4 separate regions of the Homo sapiens genome follow, and all the other regions are linked to region 2. The links come from fine-mapping of genetic effects on gene expression. A gene starts in region 2. Each other region holds a variant in brackets. All regions are shown on one strand. Distances are between the middles of the regions.

Evidence for each region. PIP is the estimated chance that this variant, and not a neighbour inherited with it, causes the effect. A credible set is the group of variants that fine-mapping cannot tell apart.
Region 1: its variant is the best candidate, but not a certain one, in a credible set for the expression of POLD3 in whole blood (INTERVAL, PIP 0.84).
Region 3: its variant is the best candidate, but not a certain one, in a credible set for the expression of POLD3 in liver (GTEx, PIP 0.65).
Region 4: its variant is the best candidate, but not a certain one, in a credible set for the expression of POLD3 in monocytes (TOPMed, PIP 0.76).

What each region holds. Positions count from the first base shown.
Region 1 is chr11:74,618,076-74,623,228 of GRCh38, reverse strand. It overlaps POLD3 (DNA polymerase delta 3, accessory subunit), which reads right to left. Exons shown (of 12, transcript NM_006591.3): 6 at 4,425-4,692; 7 at 3,140-3,212. Among named protein-coding and RNA genes, the nearest start is that of POLD3, 28 kb to the right of the region's middle. The variant T/C (reference allele first, on the strand shown) is at 2,395.
Region 2 is chr11:74,590,130-74,595,282 of GRCh38, reverse strand. POLD3 (DNA polymerase delta 3, accessory subunit) reads right to left here and starts at 2,701. Exons shown (of 12, transcript NM_006591.3): 1 at 2,565-2,701; 2 at 1,167-1,222. The coding sequence starts at 2,624. RefSeq lists an enhancer at 2,406-3,039.
Region 3 is chr11:74,661,720-74,666,872 of GRCh38, reverse strand. It overlaps a transcript of POLD3 not described here. Among named protein-coding and RNA genes, the nearest start is that of MIR4696, 56 kb to the left of the region's middle. The variant A/G (reference allele first, on the strand shown) is at 2,443.
Region 4 is chr11:74,612,082-74,617,234 of GRCh38, reverse strand. POLD3 (DNA polymerase delta 3, accessory subunit) reads right to left here. Exons shown (of 12, transcript NM_006591.3): 5 at 4,225-4,357. Among named protein-coding and RNA genes, the nearest start is that of POLD3, 22 kb to the right of the region's middle. The variant T/C (reference allele first, on the strand shown) is at 2,632.

The DNA.
Region 1 (5,153 bases), 28 kb before region 2:
ATCTCCTGACCTCGTGATCCGCCCGCCTCGGCCTCCCAAAGTGCTGGGATTACAGGCGTGAACCACCACACCCGGCCCCTACTTTCTGTCTCTATAGACCTGCCTATTCTGGACGTTTCATATAAATGAAATAATATATGATCTTTTCTATCTGGCTTCTTTCACTTAATATTTCAAGGTTCATCCATGTCATATCACATATCCATCTGTACTTCATTACTTTTTATAGCTGAATAACATTTCATTGTCTGGATATACCACCTTTGTTTATCCATTCATCAGATGACAGACTTTTGGATTGTTTCAATTTTTGGCTATTATGAAGAATGCTGCTATGAACATCTTGTACAAGTTTTTGTGTGGACATACAGTTTTAATTCCCTTGTGTAGATATCTAGGAGAGGAACTGCTGGGTAAACTCTATGTTTAACTTTTAGAAGTACTGCCACATCATTTTCCAAAGTGAGTACACATCATTTTACATTCCCTACAGCAGAGCACAAGGGTTCAATTTCTCCACATCCTTGCCAACACTTGTTACTGTCCAGTATTAAGTTTTAAATGGTTCAAGTCCCCACAGTGAACTCTCTTCATCCAATTCTCAAGCTTCATTTTCATTGTAATGATCTTGTCATGTGTCGAATACAATAAAAAAGTCATAATTTTACTCTGAACATTCAGCCTTGAAGAAATGTCAAATAAATTAACTTTGTAAGCAATTTTTAGATTAATATTTAATAGTATTTTATTTTATCCAGGTTTTCCCCCTCACCGTGTTACATGCCATCATAACACCCTATTACTCCTACCTAGCAATTACAATCATCCACTATTCAAATGTTTTCTTTCTTTCCTTTCCCTTTATTTTTTTAAGAAATGGGGTCTTACATGCACACGTATGTTTATTGTGGCACTATTCACAATAGCAAAGACTTGGAACCAAGCCAAATGTCCAACAATGATAGACTGGATTAAGAAAATGTGGCACATATACACCATGGAATACTATGCAGCCATAAAAAATGATGAGTTCATGTCCTTTGTAGGGACACGGATGAAATTGGAAATCATCATTCTCAGTAAACTATCGCAAGAACAAAAAACCAAACACCGCATATTCTCACTCATAGGTGGGAATTGAACAATGAGAACACATGGACACAGGAAGGGGAACATCACACTCTGGGGACTGTTGTGGGGTGGGGGGAGGTGGGAGGGATAGCTTTAGGAGATATACCTAGTGCTAAATGACGAGTTAATGGGTGCAGCACACCAGCATGGCACATGTATACATATGTAACTAACGTGCACATTGTGCACGTGTACCCTAAAACTTAAAGTATAATAATAATAATAAAATAAATAAATAAATAAATAAAAAGAAATGAGGTCTTCTACATTTTTGGCTGGATTTGAATTCATGGGCTCAAGCAAATCTCCTGCCTCGGTCTCCCGAGTAGCTGGGATTACAGGCACGTACCACCATGCCTGGCTTTTTTTCCATATTTATTTGTCCATCTCTCTCAGTAGAATATAAGGACTTGAGGGCAGGGACCTTGTTTGTCTTTTTCCTCTATTGTATCACCACTGCATAACAATGCCATGCACATAGCAGGTGCTCAATCTATTTGCTAACTAAACACATGATTTAAATAAGCATACTTCTGTATGGTTTGATTTTTTTAAAAAAAACCATAACAGCCAGGCAGGTCAGTGACAGCATGATGCTTTAACACAGCAGTCCCCAACCTTTTTGGCACCAGGGACCAGTTTCATGGAAGACAATTTTTCCATAGACAGGGGTGGTGGTGGGCGGCGGTGGGGGGTCGGGGGCGGTGGTTTCAGGATGAAACCGTTCCACCTCAGATCAGGCATTAGATTCTCATAAGGAGCCCGCAATCTAGATCCCTCACATGTGCTGTTCACAATAGGGTTCACAATCCTATAAGAATCTAATGCCACCACTGATCTGACAGGAGGTGGAGTTCAGGCATAATAACGCTTGCTCATTTGCTGCTCACCTCCTGTGCCACCCGGTTCCCAAGAGGCCACGGACTGCTACCCATCAGTGGACTGTGGGTTGGAGACCTGTTTTAACAGAAGTAGGAAGCATTCCCTGTGCACCAACTGTGCCTGCAGTAATACAATAATGCTTCCGAGTAACCTTTAAGTATCACATTTTCCATTCACTTTTCTAGTTACCCATTCTGAGCTGCAAGAACACAAAAACGTTCTCTGATAGCTTTTACAGCAAACACAAAAACTGTCACCCTTACATAAGCAGAATATGAAAAAAAAAAAAAAGTCACTTCAATCCCTCCCGTGACCACCAATTTAGCCATCATGGAAAGGCAGAATTCTAACTAATTTTGCTTGCATAGGCATGTAACAAAA[T/C]GCCTCCTTGAAAAATCTTTGTAAAACTGATGCTCCAAGAAAGTGTGCCATAATTATCCTGTGGCTCCTGCATTCTTCCTGGTATTCTACCACATACTCTCAGGGGATGTACACTTGATATGAGAAGTATGAAAATATGTGACTACTGGTTCTTTCCATACGAAAGAATTCTTACTTAAGTATCTTTTTAAAAATAAAGAAGATTTTTGCTTTCTCAAAAAAGATTTTTAAATGTCCATTACTACTTGGGCCCTTCTAATTCACACTGGAAGTCTAATTCATTACTGTGAGTAATCTGCAAAAAATAACTGAAGAAAGGCAAAATATTTGCTTTTGTGGACCCTTGAGAGATAGAAGAAATAAAGGTCACACCAGGCAAACTGACTCTAGCATCCACGTTATTAACCTCAACACTATACTGCGTAGCCAGGCAGCCTCCCTTTTATTTTAATCACCCATTTTCAAGGGCCCTATGAAGCAAATAGTTCATTATCTTTTCAAGGCAGGAAGTTAAACCAGGAATAATAAACTGCTCTCAAAGAGATCTCAACTGAGCCTAACTCACCCATAAAGTTCTAGCTGAGTTACTTTCATCAATATATTGGGCAGTACACTGGAAATTTGTTAGAATGCAGGTAGTCTCTTGGATTGGCAAAAACTAGACAAAGTGGCTTTCACTTCAGGTATAATATGTCATTACATTAACATTCATTCGTTAGTCAAAGTGAGGTAAGAACATGCTTACTCATAGCAGCTTTTCCAAAAAAGTTGCTCATCATATTCCCTTTCCCTGGTGCCTTGTTGCCTGCTGCAGATGCCTACAAGCACAGAAAACACATATGATTTTTTGCTGGCATTTAGGCTGTTCATGAAGTAGCAGTCTCAAACAAACTCTTCTATAGCAAACTGTTGCGATGGTATAGTCTCTATATAATCATGCCAAAACGCGTAGGTGTTAGATATAAGAACAAATCTAGAACAATAATCCACACCAGACAGTAACTGGTGTTAATCTCTAAAGCTTAGTTTCTTATATATCTTATAAAATTAATTATCCATGGATATAGCTAAACTTTTCTTGAGCACATTTAAAAACTATTTAATTTGACAGAATTAAAAAAGATCAGAGGCAGTATGTACACAAAGCGGGAAAACCTAAAACATTACATTTTTAATCATCAGAAGTAGATCTGAATTCCTGGTTCCCACCATTTAGTAGCAATATGGGCTCCAGGCAAATTACTTAAGTCTAGGTTTCAGTTTTACCATATGCGAAAGGGAAATAGTTAATATCTCCCTCACAGAACTGATAAGAGGATTTAAACAAAGACACTGGCACACAGTTGAAATTCAATAAACGTTAGTGTTTTCCTCCATCCTTCTTCTTTCCCAAGACAGACGCTTGAAAATGACAGTGATCTGAATTAAATACACTTGACACTGGAAAATGACAGTGATAATAATAATAGTAACAACAATAATTATGCTTTTCTGGATTTTTAAAATAGTATCTTAATGATACTTTTCTTAAGTCAATGCCCTTGAGTTAGTTCAGATGACTGAACAATAAAAATCTAAGAGAAGCAAATAAGGCAAAAACAAAACAAAAAAACCTGCATAAAGTATAAGAATGGGAAATACACTAGGAAGGAAGGTATATGTTGCAAAGCCCAGAATATAAGATGTTCCTCAGAAAGACATATTGCAAATAAACATTTTTTTGAATGTCAACAATTCTCGAGGTGTTTTCACATGTTTTCATCTGGGTTTCACAACAATCTTGTAATGTGCACAAGGTAGGCATTACCATTTTGCAAAGGAAATCCAAGGTTTGGTGAGAATCATTATCAAAAGCAAAAGAACTCTTTCAGATAACAATATCAAGTATTAAAGGGTTCAAACTAAAGTAGAAAAATCAGAACTGAATATCAGAATCTTATATAAATAAACTACTACCACTGCAACCATTAATGCTTTTCTAGTTACCCACTCTGAGCTGCAATGAAGGGGTATCTTCAAAGAAGACTTACATTTGTTACTTCTTTAGCCTCTGTTTTCGTTTCCTTGTTGGTTTCTTGGGTTTTAGCAGCAGCTTTGGAGGCAAACATTCCCATAATTCCTTTGGGCTGCTGGGAAACCTGCTTGGATGCAGGTGGGCCATGACCATTGGTGGTCAGCTCATTGTTGGCTTGTGTCTCACTTGACATGTGAAGATGTGACTGCTCAAACTTTTTGGAAGACGAAGAGGATTCAGCAGGAGCTCTAGGGACGGCAGCTGCACATTGTATAGCACTAAATCTGGGGACAGAAATGTTACATTAAGTTAATGTCAGCATATGCATTCTTGGGTGGTTCAACAAAAAAAGAAAAAAAAAACTAATGTCAGTATAAAACTTTATTTTCAAACTCTTGCTTCTTCCACACAATACTTAACTCTAATATTGTTTAGAATCGACTTTAGAAAAATGTATGAAACTCTCTATTACATAAAGAAACAAATATTAGAGAGAAGTGAGTCACTTTTACTAGGTTATACATCTAGTTAGTAATAGATAGGATTGGAATTAGGTGCCTTCTACCACTAATTGAATATTCTTGTTTTTGATAAAAGTATTCTAATTCAAAAGAGTAGGAATGCAACCAACAATAATAAAAGATGCAGTAATTTCATTATCCTTGGGAAATGAAATAGCCTTTGTTTTTAAAGACCTTCCTCTGATAGGGCTAGATTTGCAATATTGACTGAATCAAAACTAAGC
Region 2 (5,153 bases):
GGTGATGTACACCTGTAGAGCTAGTTGGTAGGCTGAGGCGGGAGGATCCTTGAGTTCAAATCCAGCCTGGGCAACATAGTGAAACCCCATCTCAAAAAAAAAAAAAAAAAAAAAAAAGAGTTCATCCATGAGAAGTCTGAGGGAAAAAACAGTGTTAGTGTTAACCAGAATGTGGAGAAACTGAAATACTCATATACTGTTAGGACTGTAAGAAGCGCAGCCATTTTGAAAAATAGTTTGTCAGTTCCTCAAAATGTTAAATACAGAATTATCTCATGACCCAGCAATTCCAATCCTAGTTTGGCTGTGTCCCCACCCAAATCTCAACTTGAATTGTAATAATCCCCACATGTCAAAGACGGACCAGGTGGAGATAACTGAATTATGGGGGCAGTTCCCCCATGCTCTTCTCATGATAGTGAGTTCTCACGAAATCTGACGGTTTTACAAGGGGCTTCCCCCTTCGCTCGACACTCATTCTCTCTCCTGCCACCCTGTGAAGAGATGCCTTCCGCCAAGTCTCCTGAGGCCTCCCCAGCCATGCGGAACTGTGAGTCAATTAAACCTCGTCTTTATAAATTCAATCTCAGGTGTGTCTTCATAGCAGCATGAGAATGGACTAACACAAATACCCAAGATAACTGAAAATATATGTTCATATAAACACTTATAGATGAATGTTTTATACATGAATGTTCATAACAGCATCATTCATAGCAGTCAAAATATGGAAATAACCCAAATGTCCATTAATGATGAATAAACAAAACTTGTTGTATCCATATTACAGACTGAATCATGTCTCCAAAAAGGTAATGTTAAAGCCCTAACCCCCAATACCTTAAAATGTGACCTTATTTAGAAATAGAATTATAGCACATGTAATTAGTTAAGACAAGGTCATATTGGAGTAGGGTGGATTCGTAATTCAGTATGACTGGTGTTCATATAAGATGGACGTGCAAAGATACAGATATACAGGGAGAATGCCATGACAATGAAGGCAGAGATTGGAATTACGCAGCTACAAGCCAAGAAATACCAATGATTGCCAGCAAACCAAATTAGCTCTAATCTATGTAGGCTATCTGTAGAGTTAAAAGCAAAGCATAACAAAACAAAAAAAAATTCCAATATGATTAAAATTGGTAGTAAATTGGACTTACTGTTTGGCCTGGTTAACATGAACCCCTAGTGTATAGCTCAGCCATTTGTATGTCACCTGTAACAAGAAAAAATTTTTCAAATGTTTTATTAGATGACTCCAGAGTGCACATCAGTCCCGAAGGTCTGTTGCTAAAGATTCCTATTCTTAGATGATTATGCCTTACAAATTACAATAAATGCCACTGCAGTTTTCCCAAGAACTATCTATCTGGGTAGGCAGGACCTATTTATCTTAAAAATGCTAAGAAGTTTGTTTCATGAACTAATGAAAAGTAATCTAAAAAGACAAGCTGAACATACCTAACAGAAAAAACTCTCATTTTCCTCACATTCCTTGTTTTACTCAGGCCCTTTCCTCATGATGTTTTTTTTGGGGGCCACCAGCCAAAGCCATCCTAAAACTCATTCAGAAGCTAGATGACTTTGAAGTGTGATGTCTCAGAAACTTCTAAAGAAAGTTGCACCCATGCAAACATTAAAGGGCACAGGTGGTGCAGGGGTCAGGAAACGAAAAAAGTGGGTAAATATTTTTATAAGAGATTAGATTGGGAACTACCAGCATCAAGCCTTCATCCCTCCTAGACCCAGGATGCCTGCACTCTCTTCTCTCAAAGTCTCTTCCAATTCCAAATGTCAAGCTTCCAATAGTTAGAAGACTTGCACAGGTTAGGCAAAGGCAGTGTGATGTAGAAGAAAGCATTAGTAAGAGGACAGACCTAGGTTGAAAAACTGCCTATCCCTTACCAAACGCAAATAAACAAGTTATTTGGCCCCTCAGCTTCAATTTCCTCATCTCGGGATACCACCACCGACCTGGGATGGGGTGCGGGGAGGTCACTGTAAAGATTAAAGTGCCTTGGCACACAGCAGGCACTCAATCATCACGGTTTGCAAAGTGCACTCACATCCATCAATTCGCTCGATCTTTTCCTCACCCGTGTGAAGCGGATCAAACCTCTATCAATGCTTAAATTTCCAGGAAGAGGAAACAGTATCTGGAGGTTACGCAACTTGTAACTTAACACAGTTAAGACACGATTTCCTCAACTGTAAACTTAAAACTTTAAACGCCAACCACCTTAAAAGAAAGGTGTAGGGACGCCTTAGAACTCTCAGCCAACGGCCCTCCCTCCGCGCCCGGTCTCCGCGGCTCCAGCCCCAGGCTCTGTTCCCAGCACGCCCACCCAAGGGACGCGGACTTCCGTGTGTGCTGGAGGACCTTCCCGACGAGTCCTCGCTCGCTCTGGGGCACAGAGCTCGCCCAGGTCCCCTCGTGGGGACCTGTCTCCCCTGGTCCCCACGAAGCCACAAGCAGACAGAGGGTCAAGGCTCCCGCCGCCCTAGCCGGGCCCAGGACCCCGGTCGCACGCCCGCGTTCCCCAGTAGTAGCTGCTCACGATCTTGTTTTGGTCCGTGACGAACTCGTCTATATTTTCCAGATAAAGCTGGTCCGCCATGGTGCGGCAGCGCTGGGACCCGCCTCTAACCCCTCTCTCAATCACAGCCACAGCTCCCGCCGGCGGGAAACGTCTTTGCTCCCTCCCAGGTCCCGGGTCGTTTCCCCGGCAACGGAGGCGACGCACTACGGCGGCCCTCGAAGGGTCAAACTAGTCAGGGAGACGGCGCAGACGGAGGTAGGCAGAGCTAGTAGAAAACACCGAAGTGCGGGGCCTCCTGGCTGGTTTTTTCCTATACCTACGTACCTATGATAAAGTTTAATTTATAAATTAGGCACAGTAAGAGATTAACAAAAATAACTAACGATAAAATAGAACAATTATTATTATACTGTAATAAACATTAGTGAATATGGTCTCTCAACAGATGTCATTGGGTATAATATTTCCCTACCGAGGTTGGCTGCGCGTGATGAAACCCGGGAAAGCCAGGATAAAGGGGAGACTATTGAAAACAAGTAATTTTAGTAGTGCTGCCAACTGGGGAAAAGTACTGCCTGTTATAATCCCTCAGAGTTGAGAAATTAGGGAAGGTTTTTCCAGAGGGGTTGAGGAGAGGCTGAGTGTTTCGGATAGAAGCAGGAGAATTTGCTGGAAAAGAGTTCATTATCTCTGGATTGTTAGGAGAAGAGGCGGATGAGAGAGACTTGGGAGAAACCAAATCGTTGTGCCTAGGAGACTGTGAAGAGGCGCTTGAGCTGTGTTCTCAGGAAAACTTGGAGAAAAGTTATCAGGTTGGGGAATTTCAACTCAAATTTCTCCTAGTATCACCCCCGCAAAAATCTTTAATAATTGACTTCAGCATAAGCCGGTGCAGTTCAGTATCGCAGGTGTAGTGCGTAAGAGAGTGGGCTCTAGAGTCAGACTTACTGGGTTTGAATCCTGGTTTTGCTGTTTGTTGTGTAAACTTAGGTAATTCTTTAGCCACTAGGAGCCTATTTCCTTATCTATAAAATGGGAATAATAACAGTACCTACTTCAAAGGCTTGTCGCGACATGCATTCATTCAAAGCATAGCAAAATCCTGAGAAAGGCCAGATACTATTCTGAGTGTTGAGGTGCTGGGGCTGCAGCTATGAGCAATAATAAACCGAGCCTGTTCACATGTAACTTACATTCTGAGATTTTTAAGTGAAAGATAGTGGTGGTTTAAAATAGGGTAGCAGACCGGGCGCGGTGGCTAACGCCTGTAATCCCAGCACTTTGGGAGGCCTAGGGGGATGAATCACCTGAGGTCAGGAGTTCGAGGCCTGCCAGGCCCACATGGTGAAACCCTGTCTCTACTAAAAATATAAAAATTAGCCGGGCGTGGTGGCACGTGCCTATAGTCCCAGTTACTCCCAGGGCTGAGGCATGAGAATGTCTTGAATCCAGGAGGTGGAGGTTGCAGTGAGCCGAGATCATGCCACTGCACTTCAGCTTGGGAAACAGAGAGAGACTCCGTCTAAAAATAAAATAAAATGGCTCGGCGCAGTGGCTCACACCTGTAATCCCACACTTTGGGAGGCCGAGGCAGGCAGATCACCTGAGGTCAGGAGTTCGAGACCAGCCTGGCAAACATGGCGAAACCCCGTCTCTACTAAAAATACAAAAATTAACCAGGTGTGGTGGTACACGCCTGTAATCCCAGCTACTCGGGAGGCTGAGGCAGCAGAATCACTTGAACCTGGGAGACCGAGGTTGCGGTGAGCTGAGATGGTGCCACTGCACTCCAGCCTGGGAAACAGAGTGAGACCCCCCTCAAAATAAATAAATAAAATAAAATAGGGTAGCAGTGCCAGGCACAGTAGCTCACACCTATAATCCCAGCACTTTGGGAGGCCAAGGCAAGTGGATCACTTGAGCCCCAGGAGTTCGAGACCAGCCTGAGCAACATACTGAAACTCCGTCCCTACTAAAAAAAAAAAAAAAAAAAGCCATGGTGGCACGAGCCTGTGGTCTGTGGTCTGTGGTCCCAGTTCTGAAGTGGGAGGATGGATTGAGCCCAGGAGGTAGAGGTTGCAGTGAGCACTTGATCATGCCACTGCATACAGCCTGGGTGACAGAGTGAGACCCTGTCTCAAAAAATAATAATTTTTTTTTTTTTTGAGACAGAGTTTTGCTCTTGTTCCCCAGGTTGGAGTGCAATGGCGCGATCTCGGCTCACTGTAACCTCTGCCTCCCGGGTTCAAGTGATTCTCCTGCCTCTGCCTCCCAAGTTGCTGGGATTACTGGCATGCGCCACCACACCCGGCTAATTTTGTTGTAGTTCTAGTAGAGAGGGGGTTTCGCCATGTTGGCCAGGCTGGTCTCGAACTCCTGACCTCAGGTGATCCACCTGCCTTGGCCTCCCAAAGTGCTGGGATTACAGGCGTAAGCCACAACGCCAAACCAATACATTTTTTAAAATAGAGTAGTGGTAGTGGAAATTGAGAGAACTGAGTGACTTGAGTTTTGTTTTAGAGTCGGCAAAACCTGCTGATGAATTACACGAGTGGAGTGTGGAAAAAACAGGAATCAAGGAAAATACCTAGATATGGAACATAAATC
Region 3 (5,153 bases), 72 kb before region 2:
CTATAACCAGCCTGTCTTGATTACTGTGGTTTTGTAGTAAGTTTTGAAATCAAGAAGGATTTCTCCACTTTTGTTCTTCTTTTTCAAGATTGTCTTGACTGTTCTTGGTCCCTTGCATTTGCATATGAGTTTTAGGGTCAGCTTGTCAATTTCTGGGGAAAAAAAAATCCAGCTGGGATTTTGATAAGAGATTGCACTAAATCTGTAGATCAATTTAGGGAGTATTGCCATCTTAAGAATACTACTAAGTCTTTTGATTCATGAGCACATGAAGTGTTTCCATTTATTTAGGTCCTCTTTCTCTCTCTCTCTCTCTCTCCACTTCCTGGGTTCAGGTGATTCTCCGGCCTCAGCCTCCCAAGTACCTGGGATTACAGGCGCCCGCCACCACACACAGCTAATTTTTGTATTTTTAGTAGAGACAGGGTTTCACCATGTTGGCCAGGCTGGTCTCGAACTCCTGACCTCAGGTGATCCACCTGCCTCGGCCTCCCAAAGTGCTGGGATTACAGGCGTGAGCCACTGCGTCTGGCCTTCAAATGGCTTTTTAAAAGATGAGAAGATATTTCCTGACAAACAAGATGGGAAAGGCATCCCAGGAAGCTGGGATTAGAGGTGTGAACCACTGCACCCTTTAAACAATGCTTTGTAGATTTCAGAATTTATATAAGCTTTGCACTTCGTTGTATGTATTCCTGAGTACTTTTAAACTTTTTGATACCATTGTAAATGCAATTGTTTTCTAATTTCATTTTCAGATTATTTCTAGCTTGTAGAAATATAATTGATGTTTGTACATTGGGCTTGTATCCTAAAGCCTTGTTGAACTTAACATATTGGGTTTAATAGGTTTTTTAGTGGATTCCTTAGGATTTTCTATATAGAAGATCATGTCATCTGAATACAGAAATAGTTGTACTTCTTCCTTTCTAAAATGAATCCGTTTTGTTCTTTTTCCTGCCTAATTGCCTGGCTAGAGCCTCCAGTACAATGTTGAATATAAGCGGTGAGAGCAGACTTCCTTGTCTTATTTTTGATCCTAAGGGTAAGTTTTCAGTCTTTCACCATTAAGTATGATGTTAGCTGTGGGTTTTTGTTGATACCCTTTATGAGGTAGAGGAAGTTTCCTTCTATTTCTAGTTTTGTTTAGTGTTTTTTAAAAATTATGAAAGGGGCCAGGCATGGTGGCTCATGCCTGTAATCCCAGTGCTTTGAGAGGCCAAGGTAGGCGGATCACCTGAGGTCAAGAATTTGAGACCAGCCTGGCCAGCATGGCAAAACCCCCTCCACTAAAAAATACAAAAATTAGCCGGGTGTGGTAGCGCATGCCTGTAATTGCAGCTACTCTGGAGGCTGAGGCAAGAGACTTGCTTGAACCTGGGAGGTGGAGGTTGCAGTGAGTCGACATCGTGCCACTGTACTCCATCCAGCCTGGGTGACAGAGCAAGACTCTGTCTCAAAAAAAAAAAAAAAAAAAAAAATTATAAAAGGGTGCTAGATTTTGTCAAATGCTCCTTCTGGCTCTATTAATTTCATTTTTTTTTTTTTTGAGACAGAGTCTTGCTCTGTTGCCTAGGCTGGGGTGCAGTGGCACAATCTTGGCTCACTGCAACCTCCGCTTCCTGGGTTCAAGTGATTTTCATTTTCATGCCTCATCCTGCCAGGCAGCTGGGACTACAGGCATGCAGCCCCATGCCAAGCTAATTTTTATTTTTATTTATTTATTTTTATTTTATTATTTATTTATTTATTTTATTTTTATTTTTATTTTTTGAGATGGAGTCTCACTCTGTTGACCAGGCTGGAGTGCAGTGGTGCGGTCTCAGCTCACTGCAACCTCTGTCTCCTGGGATCAAGCAATTCTCCTGCCTCAGCCTCCCAAATAGCTGGGATTACAGGCATGTGCTACCATGTCTGGCTAAGTTTTGTATTTTTAGTAGAGACAGAGTTTCAGCATGTTGGCCAGGCTGGTCTCGAACTCCTGACCTCAAGGGATCTGCCCACCTAGGCCTCTCAAAGTGTTGGGATTACAGGCGTGAGCCACCACACCCAGCTCTTTCTGACTCTACTGAGATGATTGTGTGGTTTTTGTCCTTTATTCTATTGATAAGGTTTATTATATTAATTGATTTTTCAGATATTAAACCAACCTTAAATTCCTAGGATAAATCCCTCTTGCTTATGGTGCAAAATCCTTTTTATATGTCACTGGATTCATCTTCGTAATTTTTTTTTGAGGATTTCTGCATCCATATTCATTAGGAATATTAGTCTGTAGTTTTCTTATGATGTCTTTGTCTGGTTTTGGTGTCAGAGTAATACTGACCTCATAGAGTAAGTTGGGAAATGTTCTCTCCTCTTCTAATTTTTGGAAGAGTTTGTGAAGAATTTGGTATTAAATCTTCTCTAAGTGTTTGGTAGAATTTATACTTTTTATTGCTG[A/G]GCTGTACTCCATTATATGAATATACCACAATTTATTCATCCATTCACCTGTTGATAGATATTTGGGTTGTTTCCAGTTTTAGAATAAAGCTGCTATGAACATTAGTGTACAAATCTTTGTATGGATGTATGTTTTCATTTTCTTGGGTAAATATTTACAGTATAATTGCTGGGTCATTTGGTAGATGCATGGTAACTTTATGAGAAAGTTCCAGACCAATTTTCAAAGTGGTTGTGTCACTCCTACCAGCAACGTATGAGACTTTTGCTTACATTCTACAATCTTACCACTTAAGCTGTTGCCACCGTTTGATTTTAGCCATTCTAATGGGCATGTAGTGATATCTCAATGTCATTTTCATTTACATTTTGCTGAATAATAATATTAAAACACATTTTCATGTGCTTATTGGCCATTGGTATATCTTCCTTTATTCAGTGCCGGTTCTTATTTTTTGCCCATTTTTTAAAAATTAGATTTTAATTGGGTCTTCTTAATATTGAGCTGTATAAGTTTTTTATATACACTGGATAAAAGTCTTTTGTCAAATATATAGACATAGAGAGATAGAGATATATGCATGGTGATAACTAACTCACATTCTATGGTTTTCCTACTTATTTCTTAATGGTGTCTTTTGCTTAGCAGAAGGTTTAAATTTTGATGAATTCCATTTTATTGATGTTTCTTTTATGGTTATTGCTTTCTGGGTCCTAAAAAAGTTTGACTATCCAAAGATGATGAAAATGTTCTTCTATATATTTTCTTCTAAAAACATTTTAATAGCCAGTTGTTCCAGCATCGTTTGTTGAACAGACTTTTCTTTCCACATTGAATTGCTTTTCCTCCTTGGATGAAAATCAACCACTATTTACAGACTAACTATTCTGTCCCATTGATCTATTTTTTCTATCTTTATGTCAACACCACACTGTCTTGACTACTGTGGCACTACTGTAAGTCTAGAAATCAAATGTAAGTTCTTCACCTCTGTCTTATTACAAGACTGCTTTATACTACATCTTTTCCATTTCCATGCAAATTTTAGAACTTCAACTTACCAATTTCTACAAAAAAGCCTACTAGAAATTTGATTGGCATTGCTTTGAACCTATTGATCCATTTGGAGAGAACTGACAAGTTAACAATATTGCGTTCTTCCAATCTACAAATGTGGTATATTACTCCATTAATTTAGTTTCTTTAATTTCCCTCATCAGAGACAGAGTAAGATAGCTGAATAGAAGCTTCCAGTGATCATCCTCCCCACAGGAACACCAAATTTTAACAACTATTTACATAAGAAAAGCACCTTTATAGGAACCAAAAATCAGGTAAGCAATCACAGTACCTGGTTTTAACTTCGAAATTATAGTCTTGAATCACCAATGCCACCCCTCCCTCATCCCCTTGCAGTGCCCTTGGTACAGAGAATCTGTGTGGTTGGGGGAGGGAGAGTGCAGCAACTGTGGGACTTTGAACTCAGCAAAACTGGGCTGAACTCAGCAGATGTGTGTCCATGGAAGGAGCACTTAGACCAGCCATAGCCAGAGAGGAATCGCCTATCCCAGCAGTCAGAACCTGAGTTTAGGGAAGCCTCAGCACTGTGGGCTAAAGTGTTCTGGGGTCCTAAGTAAACTTGAAAGGCAGTCTGTGCCACAAGGACTGCAACTCCTAGGCAAGTCTTAGTGTTGTGCTGGGCTTGGAGCTTGTGGACCTGGGGGGCATGTGACCTAGTGAGACACCAGCTGGGTTGGCTAATGGAGTGCTTGTGCCACTCCTCCTCCAACTCCAAGCAGCACAGTTCTCAGCAATGAAAGTGACTGCTTCCTTCTGCTTGAGGAGAGGGAAGGGTAAAAAGAATTTTGATTTGCATTTTGGATACCAGCTCAGGCACGACAGGATAGGGCAGTGGGAAGAGTTTTGAGGCCCCCGTTCCAGGCCCTAGCTCCCAGATATTTCTAGACACACCCTGGTCCAGAAGAAAACCTATTCCCTTGAAGAGAAGGGGCCAGGTCAGGCAGGATTCATCACCTGCTGATTAAAGAGCCCTTGGGCTCTGAATAATGAGCAGCAATAACCAGGTAGTACGCCATGGGCCTTGGTGAGACTCTGAGACATGCTGGCTTCAGGTGAGACCCAGCACATTCCCAGCTGTGATGGCCATGGTGAGAGACTCCCGCTTGAGAAAAGAAGAGGGAAAAGTAAAGGGGACTTTGTCTTACACTTAAGTAACCAGCTTGCCCACAGTGGGGTACAGTACCAAACGGGCTCTTGGGATCCACAATTCCAGGCCTTGGCTCTTGGAAGGTATTTCTGGACCTGCCCTGGGCCAGAGAGGAGCCCACTGCTCTGAAGGGCGAGTCCCAGGCCTGGCAGCATTCACCATAAGCTGACAGAAGAGCCCTTGGGCTGTAAGTGAACATCAGTGAGACTGGCAGTACTCCCCATGGGCCTGTGGTGGTGGTGGCCATTGGGAGAGGCTCCTCGGCCTGTGGAAAGGGAAGGGAAGAGTAGAAAGGACTTTGTCTCGTAGCATGAGTTCAGCTTAACCACAGTAGAATAGAGCACAAGGTAGATTTATAAGGTTTTTTACTCCAGTCCCTGGCTCCCAGACAGCATCTCTGGACCCACCTGGGGCCTAAGAGAACTTGCTGCCCTGAAGAAAAGGACACAAACCTGGCTGGCTTCACTACCTGCTGATTGTGGA
Region 4 (5,153 bases), 22 kb before region 2:
TACATCTCTCTCTAATCATTATAGAAGTGCCGTTTCACACAAATCCATAATGTAACATTCCACATTGTGAATGGGTAATTGATTTAGCCTTCTCAAAGGATTGTACTTAAAGCAAAGTTCCCCAGCTTTTTCTAACAAAGAAAAATATTTTATTTTTCCCAGTCTTGCTTATTGAGCATATGTAAGACCTCCTTGAAGTCTTATTTATCTTTTTTATTTCAGGCACCCAGCTCAAGACCTGGCACATAGAAAAGTGCTGGAAACGACATGTTGAAAGAATGACTAAGTGAATGAAAGTGAGGCTTCTGGCTTCTCTCCCTTCTTTAGTGTATCACCTTCAACTTGGGGTGGGAGATTTCTAAACTATGTGGTGATGGCAATTATCTTAAAAGATCAACCAGGCACAACTTCAAGATTAACTGCTAGAATACCTGGCCTAATGAAAAAAAAAAATCCCTGATACATCATTTCATCTCAGAAGTAACTTTAGACTGGGCAGCCCCAAAGCTAGAGTCAAAAGCTCCAAAAATCTTCCACTGATTTATTATGGTCTTCATCAGAAAACTCTGTATTTACACACATCTTTTATGCATCAGAGTTAAGAACAGACGGAAATCATTTGCTTTCACCCACTGCTCTTCCTCTCTGACCTTGCAGTGCTTCCATATACAAGGAAAAGAGTAATGTTTTATTTCACTGTCAACGTCTGAAGTTGGCCTTGAAACAACTCTTTCTCCTCTGGTCTGAATTCTACACCATAGGGTCAGGACCAGGAATTGGCAATGAGGAAGAGACCGAGTTAGGCTAGGAGTATGTCTGATGACAAGAGATCTCTGCTCAATCCTAAAATTTCAACTCTCTTCATGTCACGGCACTTCTTAAAACACACGAAATCATAAGTGAGATCTCAGTTGGCCCATAATTCTCAGGACTAAATACAAACTCATTTGTTGGAGATAAATTCACTTTTCTACTGAGGATACTTTAAGTATTTAGGTAAAGTTTCACTGAAGTGCTTCCTATTACCACATTTCTACTTGCCATGTTTATTTTAGTGGGCCCTGGCAGATTTCATTTTGAACTTTTGCGTCACTTTTATTCTTGTTTGCTTACTTGCTAGATATAACAAGGGAACTGATTTTTAGAGCCTGGAATACCCAACTAGATTTTAAAATTTTTTGAAATCTAGTAATATATTTCAAATAAACTTATCAGGGTGTTAATATTTTCTTGAAATCCTTCCCTAAAAGATAAGAGACTTGTAAATTATTCCTCTTTGGCCATATATTTATTTAATAAATATTTGTATGCTTATTATACTCAAGGTTTTGAGCTAAAGAAAAAAAAAGAACTAATGTCTATCATTAATTCACTCAGTAACTACTTATTAGTGTGCCAGGCACTATTTTGGGTATATAGTTAACAATTTAGACACGATCCCTATTCTCATGGAACTTATAGAAACTATGGCAATTCTATATCTTTCTCTCCTTGAGGACCCATCTTTATCAGTCATACCACCTCCCCAGGATTTTCAACCTTTTCTTCCTACAGCACCTTTCTAACAACCCAAGTTCAAGTCATTCTCAACTTAAGAAATGTATATATCCTTCCCGTCTCAATCCCTCCTTAGCTACCACCCTCTTTTCTGCTTTGCAGTCTAATCTCCTGGAAAGAGCTGTCCATATTTGCTGTCTCACTTCCTCTGTCCCCATTTACTTAGCTCACCAGAATCTGGTCACTCCACTGAAAATGCTCTTACCAAGGCTATCACTAAATGTCATGGACAATTTTCACTTCCTAACTTACTTGGCTTCTCAGCATTGTTTGACATTGTTGACTGGTTCCTCCTACTTGAACCTCTTTCCTTAGGGGCTGAAACCCCATATACTCTTATCTCTGGTGGCTCCCCTTGGGCCCCTCTTTTTCTATTCTTCCCTTGAAAAGCAGCTATCATTAAATAGTGCTTACTATGTGCCAAGTGCTATTCTAAGTGCTTAACATATAATAGTCCATTTAATCCTCTACAACCCTATCTGGCTGGTACTACTGTCAGCTTTACTGACAAGAACAGGGAGGCACTGAGAGGTTAAATAATTTGCCCAAGGTCAGACAACTAGTACTTTGGCCTAGAGTTTTACTTTCTGCCCTTCTTTCATTCTATACATTCTCTCTGATAACTCTATCTACTGCTATGGCCCATTTACTATTCTGATTTCAAAATCTCTATCTTTACCCCAGATTTCTCTCCTTAGCTCTAGATTCACCTATCTTTTGCGATGGACATCCTCACTTGGATTTCTCACAAGCTTCTCAAACTCAACATCTCTAAAACCCAATTTGTCATTTTTCTATCTCTCCTAAAGCCTGCTCCTCCTGTTATATTCCCCTTCTTAGTACCCAGCTGCCCAAGCCAGAAGCATGGGTATCAACCTTTCAATACCAAGAAAGGCTGTCTTCCACCATCCCCTACCCCCACACACCTTGTCCCCAACCACTACCATACATCGAGGTTTTTTTTTTTTGAGCTGGAGTCTTGCTCTGTCGCCCAGGCTGGAGTGCAGTGGAGCGATCTCTGCTCGCTGCAAGCTCTGCCTTCCGTGTTCACGCCATTCTCCTGCTTCAGCCTCC[T/C]GAGCAGCTGGGACTATAGGTGCCTGCCACCGTGCCCAGCTAATTTTTTGTATTTTTAGTAGAGACGGGGTTTCACCGTGTTAGCCAGGATGGTCTCAATCTCCTGACCTCGTGATCCACCTGCCTCGGCCTCCCAAAGTGCTGGGATTACAGGCGTGAGCCACTGTGCCCGGCCAAACTGAGGTTTTTTGATGGTCATGACTCATTAACCTTCATACTTCTCCATCCCCAACAGCACAACTTCACATTAGAAAACTGTCATATCCACCTGGATTACTGCCACATTTCTCCTCCCTGATGGCCTTGCCTCCAGATTATTCTCTTCTGATTTATCTTCAATACTGCAACCAGAGCAATCTTTCTAAAATGCAATTTTGATAATTTCACTCCATCTGCTTAAATATTTTCAGTGGCTCCCCAGCGCTCTCAGAATAGAGTCTAAATTTTTATCCTAGTAGTCAAAGCATAATGTAATTCCTGCTTGGCCTCTTTAGTCTTCTATCTAATTATTTCCTACCTTTCACTCTAAGTTGCACCCATAGAAAACGATCATGGTTCTGCACAAGCATGTTTTCTCTCTTAGCTCTGTCCTTAGTCTCTCATTTTTCCTTTGCCTGGCTATTTCTACTGGGCCTTCAGGCCTCAACTGAGATATCATAACCTTCTGTGTCATAAGTCATAACAGTCTTGTCCCCTCACTCTATCCATCCAAAAGTGGGAGATAAGTGCCCCTGCCAACATCTTCCCCCAATATTCCTCCTATTACAGTACTCTTACACTGTACCATAACTGCCTGTCTCCCATCAGTTACATGAAAAGGTACGCGGGCACATTCACTCTATACTGTATGGTATGTCATAGGTACTCATGAGTTATTTGCTGAATGAATTCAAATGATTTTGCTCAGTACCTGTCAAAGTAGTAGGTGCTCAATGTATGTCTGGGGAACTGATCTGAATTATCAATACAACCCCACAAAGGAGACATTATTACATTGAATTTAAAGGCAAAGAAACCAAAGCTCAAAGAGTTTAAGTAATTTGTCCAATGCCACTGGGCTACTAAGCAGCAAAGCCACAAATCAAGCCTGTGACCACCAATTTCCAAAATGTACACGCATTATAGTCCGTTACCTCCTTGTGCTGTTAAGGATACAAAAGATTTAAAAAAAAACCTGATCCTGGCTATGGAAGCTCAAGAAAAAGTTGCTTTTGGATGAAAAGTAGAGGGATATCAAATTAGGAACTGTTTTTTTAAGGACAACGTTTGAACTGGTTCTTGAAGGATGGGTAGGATTTAGACAAGCAGAGACTGGGTAAGGGAGTTAGAGAGGGCACGACAAACATTTCTGGTGGCAGTGACAGGATAAATACATGAGAAATAGATTTATGGAGAGTCCACTGGGGTTTTCAATATGGGTTGTGGCTGCTATTTTTCACCTTATGATGTACTAATAAAACCAGGCATGTTTCTTACTGCAAGATAAATGGGGTTTTACTAGACTTGGCATTCACTCTTAAGAGGCAGCCACTGTGTAAACATCTTACAAAATCAATTCGTAAAGAAGCCCACAAGGAACATTAAGACGCTTACTTGCTGCAGTTCTGCAAGTTGCTTTTAAGGATGTCATAGTCAGTATTGAACAGAGGCCCACTGTCCTTTAGCATGGCTTTCTGGATGCTGTACACATGGATGCTGGCAGTCACAGCTAGCTTGGACTTCACTGCTACAAGTCAACAGGAAAAGCAGTCAGTTAATACACAAACTTCATAGCATGTGGGGACTTTAACAAGAAACCCTTCTGCATTAAAGCATTTGTAATCTGTGGTGGTCCAAAAAACTCTAAAGGCCACACAGCCACATATACAGTGAAACATCAACTCTTCTGTCTGCAATGGGGACATTATGACAAGGTAGGTGGTGGTGAGTCATTTCTAAGGACAGCACCTGAGAGGGTATCACTCATCCAGTGGACACTTAGTAAATATTAATGATTGATGATGACTACGATGATCTTTTTCTTTTGGTCAGAAAAGAGCCTTACACTATAGCATATAATTAAAGAGTACTAAGTAATTTCTATCTGAGAATATTCATTTATATATTTCAATTTTAGTTTAGAGAAAGCAACTCTGTAATAAAAACACTACTAACTAGATAAGTCTACGGAAGAGAAACACAAAAGAACACCACAAGAATAAATGTTAGGTTCCGCGAAGGAAGGGATTGCAGCTAACTTGTTCCATGTCCCCAGTGCCTAGTATAGAGCTTGGCACATAGTAGATCATCATTACATATCTACAGAATAAAGAAATTTTGCTTTGCTTAACACTGTGGGAATTCAGAAAGTAAAAAGTGGACAAACCCACCACTCTGAATACTTCAGAGTTAAATTTGGTAAAATACCCCCACCCTACCCCCATGGACAGGAACTCTTTCTTTTTAAAATACACATATTTTTTGTGTCCCTGGCGTGGCTGCCCTCCACCCTCCTCAGTCCCAATCTGTGAAATGGGGCCTGC